2 separate regions of the Homo sapiens genome follow, and region 1 is linked to region 2. Evidence: fine-mapped expression QTL. A gene starts in region 2. The other region holds a variant in brackets. All regions are shown on one strand. Distances are from middle to middle. Region 1 has its middle 26 kb from the start of PLB1. Region 2 holds the start of FOSL2 (FOS like 2, AP-1 transcription factor subunit).

Region 1 (5,362 bases), 77 kb after region 2:
AAAAAAAAAAAAGAAAGAAAGAAAGAAAGAAAATACATAGATACAGAAAGGTGAGGCATATAGAGGGCAAACCTCCCAGCAAGTCAGGACCAAAGCTGAGGTGACATCAGGCTCCTGCCCTCAGCCCCTGAGCTCTTTCTTCTACAGTAGGGCTGGGAAAGAAACATGTGAACCTGGGGTGGGAGCAGCGGGCACTCAGAAGGTGTGGGGTAGTAGGGGACCCAAAGGGTCTTATGCACACTGAGAGGAGTGTGAATATGCCTACATGTGCCATGTGCCATAGCACACGTTCTTTGGAGAAGGCACAAGAGATTCACCAAGTCCCACAGGGATGTAGGGAGCTGTGTAATAATGTGAAACCCTCCTTGGAAATTAAGCCATTCATCAATTCACTCAGCCATTTTGCTAATTTATGAAATGCAGACTTTGGGCCATACCCCGCACCTCTCCTTTGGGGGAGGCAAAGGAGCAGAAGCCAGGCTGGCTGCCTTTTTGGAGCTTTCAGCCCTGGGTAGGGAGAAGAATCAGGCCCACATCTAATCAGGAACCAAAGCAGGACCAATCGAGTGGCAGGTGAAGGGCTCAGGCAGCAAGGGCTTGGGGGTTCAGACACCAGGGTGGTTAGAAAGAGCTTCATGGAGGCAAAGGGCAAGGAGAGGATAGAGTCAGAAGGTGGAGGTCTGGGGCCTGGCCAACAGGCAGAACAGACTATCAGATGTAGTTTGGGATGTCAGGAGAAGGAGCCTTCATTTCACTCCTTCCTTGTACCAATGGGAGGAGTTTAAATTCTAGGTCTTCTTAAATTTTTTAAATTTTAAACATTTTTTGAGACAGGGTCTTTCTCTGTCACCCAGGCGGGAGTGCAGTGGCAGGATCATGGCTCACTACCTCCCAGGCTCAAGGGATCCTTCCACTTCAGCCTCCTGAGTAGATGGGACCACAGGCACACAGTCCAACTATTTTTTTTTTGTAGAGATGGGGTCTCGCCATATTGCCCAGGCTAGTCTTGGACTCCTGTTCTCAAGCAATTCTCCTGCCTCGGCCTCCCAAAATATTGGGATTCTAAGTATGAGCCACCTCTCCTGGCCTCTAGGTCTTAATCTACATTCTAATTCATGGCTTTATTCACTTCAACACATTTTTATTGAGCAGCTACTCAGTGCTGCGCTGCTAGGTGCTGGCAACTGGGGCTATAGAAAGGCAAAGTTCTCAAGGACTCCTGCATCTATACAAAGACAGACCTATGATCCACAAAAGACTGAGGATCAGGGCTATTCTGGGGGCACAGGGTGCCAGTGGGCCTGGCCAGAGGAGGGACACCAAGGAAGTTAGGGGAAATGGCAGGGTGGTTTTCCAGGGGCACGGATTGCATTTGAAGTAAGAGTTATCCAGGCGGGGGAGGAGGGAGGGAAGGGGGTGGTCTCTGCTGAGAAATTACCGTATGCAAAGCCTCATAAATGATGAGTGCTGGGTGCATTTAGTCTAACTGGAGTATGAGGCATAAGGGCATGGTTGGGTAGAGGGCAGGAAAGGGGGCTGGGAGATGAACCCCAGAAATGTCCTTTCCATTTGTCTGGGGGCTCCGGGAGGCTGCTGGACTGCTGATTAACTAATTCCCCAATAAGCCTTCAAGTGAGGCCCAGTCCAGCTGGACAAGAGCTCCCCTTGTCACTGTGTGTGGTGACACCTCTGATTTGCCTGGTCATTTAGTTCTTCTCTTAGGAAGAGGGCTGGATAAGGAGAGACTCTGCTCACCGCCTTGAGTGGGTTCTCTTTGCTTTGAGTTGTGTGGACTTCTGTGAGTAGACACCTACTGTCCTGGGGGAAGGACAGGCATGATGGGACGGTTTGGACCCCGTTCTCACACGTTCCTTTGCAGGTGGAGCTGGAAGGCTGCTGGGAAGGAGGTGTCAGCTGTGCAGTGGCCCTGAGCAGCCTCAGGAACCTGCCTCCTGCTTGCTGGGGACCATGATTTCTCACATCTCTAAGAGATGAAGGCAGATCCTCTGAGGTCAGCTGGTGGGAGAGAACCCTGGGGCCTTAGGAAGGAAACTCTCTGAGCCTGGGAGATGCTGATCCAGTGCCCCTGGCCTAGCCAATCAGGGCCACTCTGGGTGTGCTGGAAAGAGAGGCTTCTCTTCTCTCCCCATCCTTGGAGGGATTTTGGCTGGATACTGGCCAGCAGGCATTGCCTTAGTCATAGTGATGGCAGGGAACTGGGACAGCCCTGGCTGTGTGATTTCCACAGCCACCCCCACAGGGCCTCAATTCTTCAGTTTTCTATCCCAAGGGGACTAGTTGGAAGATCACTGACTGCTTAAACTGAGTAAGTCCCTGGGGGAAGGTGGATTTATGGAAGAGCAAATTCTTGAAAAGGGAGAGCGTGGGCTAAAGCCATGTATTTATTTACTTATTTATTCATTCAATGTTTTGTTTTTTCTTTACTTGTTTAAAAAAAAACACTTCATCTCTTTGAAAAAATAGAAATAATACAGAAATCAACAAAGCCAGAAAAATGTTCCCCCTTGCGGGAAGGGTGAGCTACACACCCTGCCCACAAATAGAATGGGAAATGTATAATTTCCTGAAAAATGGAGCTAAAGCAGGAAAATCGAAGAAGAAGAAGAGGAAGAAGAAGAAGGAGGAGGAGGAGGAGAAGAAAGAGGAGGAGGAGGGAGAAGGGGAAGTGGGATGAAGAGGAGGGGGAAGGGGAGGAGGGGGAGAAAGAGGAGGAGGAAGGGGAGGAGGAGAGGGAGGAGGGGGAGGGGGAGGAAGAGGGGGAGAAGAAAGAGGAAGAGAG[C/A]AGGAGAGGAAGAGGAGGAGGAGGAGGAGGAAGTGGGAGGATATCCTTTCAAAGTTTTTGTTCTGTGCATACAAAAATATGAACACCTTAGGCCTCTTCCCATGCCAATAGTGTAACTCCACCTGGCCTTTGGCACCATTCATTCTGTTTGCACAGCACGAGAAGAAGGTCTGTGAGGAGCAGCCTGGCTGGTGGGCAGGTTCTGTCAGTTGCACGAGCACAGCTTCTTCTTTGGCTGTTATTGGGGGTCATCTCTGCTCAGCCAGGCCTTTCCCTGTCCAAGGTCACTCTGCTGCAGGCACAGGAGGAACCAGAAAAAGGCCAAAGTGGTCTAACACACAGGGGTGAGGTGTGAGGTGAGGTGCTGGGCTGGCCTCAGGGTCGGAAGGCAGGTGCTGGCAGAGAGGCGTTTGTTGGCTTTGGGCACTTCCAGCCACAGGAAGTGTTTGTTCTTTTCAGGACAGGGGAATCCTTATTTCCATTCAACAAAAACATTTTGTATAAGACCAAAAGGGGTGCAAAGAAGAGTTCTAATTGAGAGGAGTTTGCCAGCTCTAAAGAACGTCCAATTTGGGCGCTGTCAGAGAGACTCAGAATGTTCTGAAGCTCCACAGTTGGTGAGAGGGGACCAGAAACACACCCCAATGACAGGCACTCCTGAGGACAGACCAGGAGCAGGTGCTGTGCTGAGCACTCCATATACCTGATTCATTCCATTCTCACCTCTGAGCTAGGGATCGTCCCCTCCTCTCATGAACTGGGAAAGTTTATTACTCATTGAACAGACTCAGAAGGATGTGAAGTGACTTGCCCAGGTCCACATGGTTGGAAAGTGGCCAAGCAGGAATTAAGGGCCAAGGTCTCTGACTCCAAAGTGCACCCTTATGTGCATTTTGCTCTGAGACAGGTGGGGTTCGAGGTGAATCTGGAGGGCAGGAAGGGACTTATCAGGTGAAGGCAGGAGGAAGGCCTTCCAGGCTGAAGGTGCAGCTGGAACGAAGACACAGAGGCAGCGTGGCCCTAGAACTATGTGGCGGGCTCTGAGGGAATCTTTCAGGTTAAGGCTAGAGGGAGGGCTTGGGCTCAGGATGGAGGGCCCTGAGGGTCTGGGAGAGGGGCATGTGACCCTTCCAGAAGGCCACAGGCATCATGGGTGAAGGGAAGAGGCCCAAGCTGACAGCACTGAGGAGAAGCCCGGTGATGAGGGGAGGAAGGGAAGAAGCCAATGAAGAGTGCAGGAGGAGGAGCCTGCTGGGATATGGGCGGGAGCCAGGGCGGGGGAGGATCTGCCTCCCTCATGTGGCCACCACAGTGTTCTCAGGGATGAACTGCCTAGAAAGGCTTGTCCCAGGCTGAAGGTCCAGCTGGCAGAGCCCAGGGAGAAGCCCAAGGGCACCCATCATGCCAGCGAAGAGAGCAAGAGGCCAGCTGTGAGGGTGACAGGAAGAGGGAGAAAGGAGTTTGTGAACGGTTCAGGTAGGAGATGACCCTTTATCGATTTGGTTGTGGGGATGGAGAAGGGTGAGGTGTGATAAAAGCTGCAGTGCAATGCTTGGATCCTTCCCACAGCCCCCGCCCTGGCCAGGATGTGCTGTGTGTCTGTGTATCCAGGCATCCTAGTTAGGGCTGAAGGGACCCTCCTCGGGGAACATGTTCCTACAGGATGACATCTGTCCAATGTGGTTTTGGACCTGTGGTGCTGGCTGGTCCTGGGCCCAGGTCTGTGGGCCTGGATGGAATGAAGCAGCCACACCTGTGTCACCCCATCTCTGGGAAGCCCCACCCCACCTGGTCAGACATGCCAGGCCAACCCCATACCCATCTTGTCATACCTGAGCTCCATGCCGCTGCCCCAGCTCCTCCAGCAAGGGCACATCACCCTTTCAAGGCCTCCTCCAATCTCCCCTCCCCAGGCAGCTGCCCCCAGAGTCCCACTTGCACTTGGTGCCTCTGTGTACATTTCCATGCACTTTCCTGTTATGTTTCTAGACTTTATTATTTTCTGAGTACGTTCATCTTATCTCTCCAGAGATGATGAGATCCTTGAGGGCAGGCATCACATCTTGTCTCTTTTTTGTCTTCCACATAACACCTAAAATGGGTTTGGCTCACTGAAGGCCCAACACTCACAGAATGTTGAATGAATAGGAATTTCCTTCCACCCACACATGGGCCCTGTGGCTTTGGGGGTGTGACCCCAAAACATGCCCATGGGATGTGGTGAGATATAAGTGAAGACAGGGGCCCAGGGAGGATATAAGTGAAGACAGGGGCAGGGACGTCTCCTCCATGATGGTGCTCTGGAATGATGCTCAGCAGGGGAGGGACCTTGGTGATGATCTCTTCCTCTTTACTGATGGACAAATAAAAGTCCCAGTGAGAGGTGACAGCGTGCTGGCAGCCCTGGCAGCCCTCAGCTCATTCTTGGTGCCTCCTTGGCCTTGGTGCCCACTCTGGCCACGCTTGAGGAGCCCTTCAGCCTGCCGCTGCACTGTGAGAGCCCCTTCCTGGGATGGCCGAGGCCGGAGCTGGCTCCCTCAGCCTGCAGGGAGGTGTGGAGGG
Region 2 (5,362 bases):
GAGGCTAGTGAATTGCATCAGCACAGATTCCGTGATGCTCTGCAGACGTCTCCAGGCTGCTGGGCTTTACGGGAACCCACAAGAAAGGAAAGGACCGGGGAGCTGGCAGGGCGAGGGCGGGCGAGGGCGCGAGGGTGCGCTCGCCCGCGCGCTCCCGGCGGCGCCTGGCCGGGGCTGGGCGCGCCCGGGACTGCGGAGGCCGCGGAGGAAGCTCCCGCTCCCCTTCCCCCGCCTCTTTCCCCCCGCGTTACTGGAAGGACTGTGTGGGAGAGACCCAGAAGCACCCGGATTTTCGACCGCCAGGTGGGGGAGGGCGGGGCAGCCTCTACTGCTCAAAGGAAAACCAAAAGTGCGTCTGTTCGCGCCGCTCCGACACGCGGTTGCTACTGGGAGGGCTCAGGCAGGGCGCTTTGGCCGCGCCTCCCTTTGCAGCCCCCAAGACTTGGCTAGGGCGGCCTGAGGCCCGCGTGGCGCGGGGAGGGGCTGAGAACCGAGTGGGAAAATGTCACGATTTCTTCTGTGCCCCTCCCGTCCCTACCCCCACCCCCAGTTTTCTGAGTTTTGCTGCTGCCGCTGGGGAAGGACTGATTCGTTTTGCGTCAAAGGACTGCATTTACTCAGTCCTGCTGGGAGAGGCGCGTAAACACCCAGGCAAGCCAGGACGCAGGGATGGGGAGGGGGAAGAAAAAAGCAAAGCACCCACGGCCGGCGCGCGCGTCCGCCTGCCCCACACCCCTCTCCTGGGCCTGCGGAGTTGGGGACTCTGTCCAGCGGGCAGCAGCGGAGGTGCGAGGAGTCTGGCTGGCCTCGCCTCGTCGCGCACGCGCGCGCGTCCTTGGGGATAGCGTTCAGGACAGAATGTGTTTTATAGCTGTAAACAATGACCCCGAGTATTGTTTGGGATTACCGTATCTTGGGGCCCTTGGGGCGGCCAGATGCCGCCAGCCGTCCCGGAAATGCCAGCGCTTTATATAGAGCCCCAGGAAAGCTTCGCGTTCCCGGCTCTATTTTTCTCTGCTACCAACACCCCCACTTTGCAGATAAGGAAACTGAGGACAGAAGTTGTGTGACGGTGCACAGCGAGTTGTCAGCAATGGACTCTCAACACCTCTTAACATTGGGTCCTCATAAGGACCCTGTGGGGTACAGATGGCTGGCGCTACTTAAGAATTGGGTAAACTGAGGCTAACACAGACCCTGGACCAAAACCTAAGTTCCCTGACTTCCGCTACAGTACTTCTCCATTCACACACACCATCATCTCAGCGGAAGGATTGGAGCTCCAGAGCAGAGAAGGGCCTAAGGTCATGTCTCCAAACTCCTTCACTTTATAGGAGGAAACTGAGGCCCAGAGAGGTTAAGGAATTCGTCCAAGATCTCACAGCTCGTAAATAGCGTAGCCGGGCGTTCCTGCTCTAAGGTCTGTGCTCTGTACCCTGCGCCGCGCCCCTCCCAGCCCCGCCCAGCGAGGGAGGAGGACCCAAATGTCCGGCAACCCGCGCCCTGAACTTCGCTCCAAAACAGCTGAAGACGACAACGTTGGGGCACACCCTCTCGCTGGCTTTTTTTTTTTTTTTTTAATTCGTAACAGTCTGGAGTTTGCTTATAAACGCCCGATTACTCTTATTAGATGCGTCCTAATTGCCCGGCGTATAGGGCGGCCGGAATGTCTTGACTGGTTAATTTCATCTTCAAGGCTACTCCTAACGAATTAACTGTAGGACCGAAAACATGAAAAACAAAAAACAAAAAGGGAACCGGTAGGCAGACCGCCACGGAGGGAAAAATAGGCAGGCCAGCCCCGCCCGGCGCCGTGCCCCGCCAACACCCGGCCGCAGGGCGGCGCGGGCACCCTGCGCGCCCGGGGCGCCCGCTGCACTCGGCGGCGCCGCGGAGGGCGCCTACGACCGCGCGCAGCCGCGCCCTCCCTGCGAGCGGCTCTGCGCGCCCGGCTCCCGGCCTCCCGGTGGCGCCGCACCGAACCGCCCGTCTCGCCGTCAGGGCTGTGATTATTTTCTAAAATCCGGAGGCGAGACCCGCGCGGCCGCTCTCGGGGCCCCGCCCCGAGCCCCTTCCCAGGGCGGGGGAGAGGCCGCAGCGCACTCGGGAGCGGGCGAGGGAATCCCTCTCCCTCCACGTCACCCGAAAGCGAGGAAACCCGCACTCGCGTCCTCTAACGCAAATGACCATCTTTGGCAACGTGCGCCAATGGAACAGACCAAGGGCGCTGGGCCCGGGGGGTGAGCGGGGGACTGGGGAGGGCCGGGGCTGCCTCGGCGCCTCCGAACCGTGCGTGGCGCCCGCTCCCGCCCGTGCCACCGCCTGGCTTCCTCGCGCGGGGTGCGCGGTTGGCGTCAGCGCGGCCGGGAGCCGGGGCTGGGAGGGGAGAGCTGCGCCCGCCTCCTCCCCTCCCGCGCCTCTTCCTCCTCCGCGGCCTCCTCCCCCCGCCTCCTCGTGCGCTCCTCCCTGCAAGGTGGAGTCTGGGGTTGACGTGAGTGAATCCACATGGTACAGGGCTGGAGAATAAAGAGTGTGAGTTGAACTCGTGCCATTGTAGTGACTCATCTCGGGCAGAGCGCTAGGGCTCCGAGCGAACCAGCGAGCGAGCGAACGAGCGGCGCTCGGCGGGGACAGAAAGAGGGAGAGAGAGAGAGAGAGAGAGGGAGAGGCGCGGCCGGGCGAGGCGGGCCCGTCCGGGAGCGGGCTCCGGGGAAGGGGTGCGGGTCTGGGCGCCGGAGCGGGGAGCGGGGCCGCGTCCCTCTCAGCGCCAGCTCTACTTGAGCCCCACGAGCCGCTGTCCCCCTGGCGCGCTCGGGGCCGCGGGACGGGCGCACGCCGCCTTCTCCTAGTCAAGTATCCGAGCCGCCCCGAAACTCGGGCGGCGAGTCGGCCACGGGAAGTTTATTCTCCGGCTCCTTTTCTAAAAGGAAGAAACAGAAGTTTCTCCCAGCGGACAGCTTTTCTTTCCGCCTTTTTGGCCCTGTCTGAAATCGGGGGTCCCCAGGGCTGGCAGGCCAGGCTCGCTGGGCTCCTAATCTTTTTTTTAATTTCCAATTTTTGATTGGGCCGTGGGTCCCCGCTGAGCTCCGGCTGCGCGCGGGGGCGGGAGGGCGCGCGCAGGGGAGGGACCGAGAGACGCGCCGACTTTTTAGAGGGAGGGATCGGGTGGACAACTGGTCCCGCGGCGCTCGCAGAGCCGGAAAGAAGTGCTGTAAGGGACGCTCGGGGGACGCTGTTCCTGAGGTGTCGCCGCCTCCCTGTCCTCGCCCTCCGCGGTGGGGGAGAAACCCAGGAGCGAAGCCCAGAGCCCGCGGCGCGGCCGGCGGACGAACGAGCGCGCAGCAGCCGGTGCGCGGCCGCGGCGAGGGCGGGGGAAGAAAAACACCCTGTTTCCTCTCCGGCCCCCACCGCGGATCATGTACCAGGATTATCCCGGGAACTTTGACACCTCGTCCCGGGGCAGCAGCGGCTCTCCTGCGCACGCCGAGTCCTACTCCAGCGGCGGCGGCGGCCAGCAGGTAGGTGCGGGCCCCGGTGCACCTGGCGGCGCGGGCGGACCCCTGCCCTCTTCTCGCCGCCACTGCCTCTTTTGCTTTCTTTTCTTTTTCTTGGCGAGAAAATACCTACGGGCCACCGTTGTAAGTTCTGGATTTTCGTCCTCCCCTTCCCCCCCACCCCCTTTTAAACTAGGGGATTGGAGAGTGGGCTTGAAGAGACAACATGCCCTTTTCCTCTCACGTTATATTTTACCCAGATAGACTCCTGGAATTGTAGGCCCCCTACCAGGAGCCTGTTACCTCCTTCCAAGAACTACTCCCCCTCCCCAGTGTCTGCCCCCCCCCCCCCACCCCTGCCCCGCGTCTTCTCTCTGGGTGGTGGACAGACAAGAAAATCTTTGCACCCACTGGCACCTCTCGACATCCTGGGACCCTATTCCTTCAGGAAAGCCCTCTCTCTCTCCTCCCCGTTCTCCATCAGTCATAACTCCTTTCTGAAAGGGGTTGGGGACCCAGAAACATGGTTGGACTCCTTCAAGTAATCTGGAGCGAGGGCGAGGGCTGCCGCTCTGGGAATCAGGTGCGAAGGTCAGGAAGGAAGAAGCCAGCCTTGGTTGGCTCATGCCGCCTGTGTGCCCCCTGCCTGCCTGCCTGCCCCCCCGCCGACCCGTCTTCTGTAAGGATCACGGACAGGAGGCTGCACTGCCCCCCAGGAACGAAGGAGCACCTTGAGGGTCTGGGGGTACCTGGAGCAAGGAGACCGGCAGAGGGAAGAGGGGGTCGGGTGGGGGAAGAGACATCACGCAGGCTCCTGGGTGGTTCTGGAAGCAGAAAACAACTTGTTTCTAAAGCAGCCGGACTGGTTTGCACTGGAGGGATTGTGCGTGTGATCTCTGTGTTTATAAATACCAGGAAGGTGCTGTTGGCGGGGGGGTGCTGATGGCGTGTCTGCCCTCTGCTGCAGCTCCCCCACCCGCTCTGTCTCGAGAGAGAGCTGGGTTAACGCAGGCCCAATACAACATGAAGCCCACCGTGGTCAGCATCTGTGGAGTCTAGCATAGTTGGCTGCAGCAAGGGATGCTCATGCTCCATAAGGCGGTGGCCTTGGCCTCTAGAAGGGGCTAGGGTGGGCTTCCAGGGAGGGGTGGACTCAGCTGGAAAGAATTTTGGAACGTGGCTCTCTTTTGGATCTGATGGGGGGGTCCCTTGTTCCAAAGTGATTCCCTATACCTGGTGAGTCCCCAAAATGGCTTTTCTGTCTTCCCTCTGCCTCCCATGGTGCTCCTATAAGCACCCACAGTAGAGACAGCCTAGTCTGTTCATTGAGGGTGCAGTCAATGCACCCTTCGTAATGAGCACCAAGGTGATGAGTTTAAAATCCGAAAAGTTGTTGATTATGTTTGCTTCCCAGCCCCGCTAGTGGTTTGTGTTGAATGTAAACATAATGAGGGAATAGGTTGAAGTCTGTACCCACTCCCTCCGTCTCCCGTTCGACAAACCCCAAACGCCTGTCTGTCTCCTCCTCCCTGAAATCAGGAAGGGATCTTTTGATTTCTTCTCTGTTCTTTTCCCTAATGTGTCTTTAGCAGTGATCATTGGAGTATTACAATCTCACTGCCTGGTTTAGCATAGACCCTGGGGCCTGGAGGGAAGTCAGACCGGACATCAGTGCCCCAACTGAATAATCTGTGTCACTAGGGCTTTGAGCCCAGGATGTGAGCGGAGGCAATTCCCGGTTTTGGAAGAAAATCAGACAGGAAACCAGTGCTAGGAAGAAGGAAGAGAACTCAGTCCAGCAGAGTGTAATAGGGCCTCATTACCGAAGCAAAAAGCAGCTGTTGGCTAATTCCTAGCATGCTGTAACA

The links. PIP is the estimated chance that this variant, and not a neighbour inherited with it, causes the effect.
Region 1: its variant is the best candidate, but not a certain one, in a credible set for the expression of FOSL2 in whole blood (TOPMed, PIP 0.80).

What each region holds. Positions count from the first base shown.
Region 1 is chr2:28,467,338-28,472,699 of GRCh38, forward strand. No RefSeq gene overlaps it. Among named protein-coding and RNA genes, the nearest start is that of PLB1, 26 kb to the right of the region's middle. The variant C/A (reference allele first, on the strand shown) is at 2,801.
Region 2 is chr2:28,390,305-28,395,666 of GRCh38, forward strand. It overlaps FOSL2 (FOS like 2, AP-1 transcription factor subunit), which reads left to right and starts at 2,554. Exons shown (of 4, transcript NM_005253.4): 1 at 2,554-3,518. The coding sequence starts at 3,417. It overlaps FOSL2-AS1 (FOSL2 antisense RNA 1), which reads right to left and starts at 4,368. Exons shown (of 2, transcript NR_103831.1): 1 at 4,244-4,368. RefSeq lists silencers at 154-223, 1,771-2,890, 3,377-3,553 and enhancers at 2,584-3,515, 3,671-4,171, 4,172-4,672.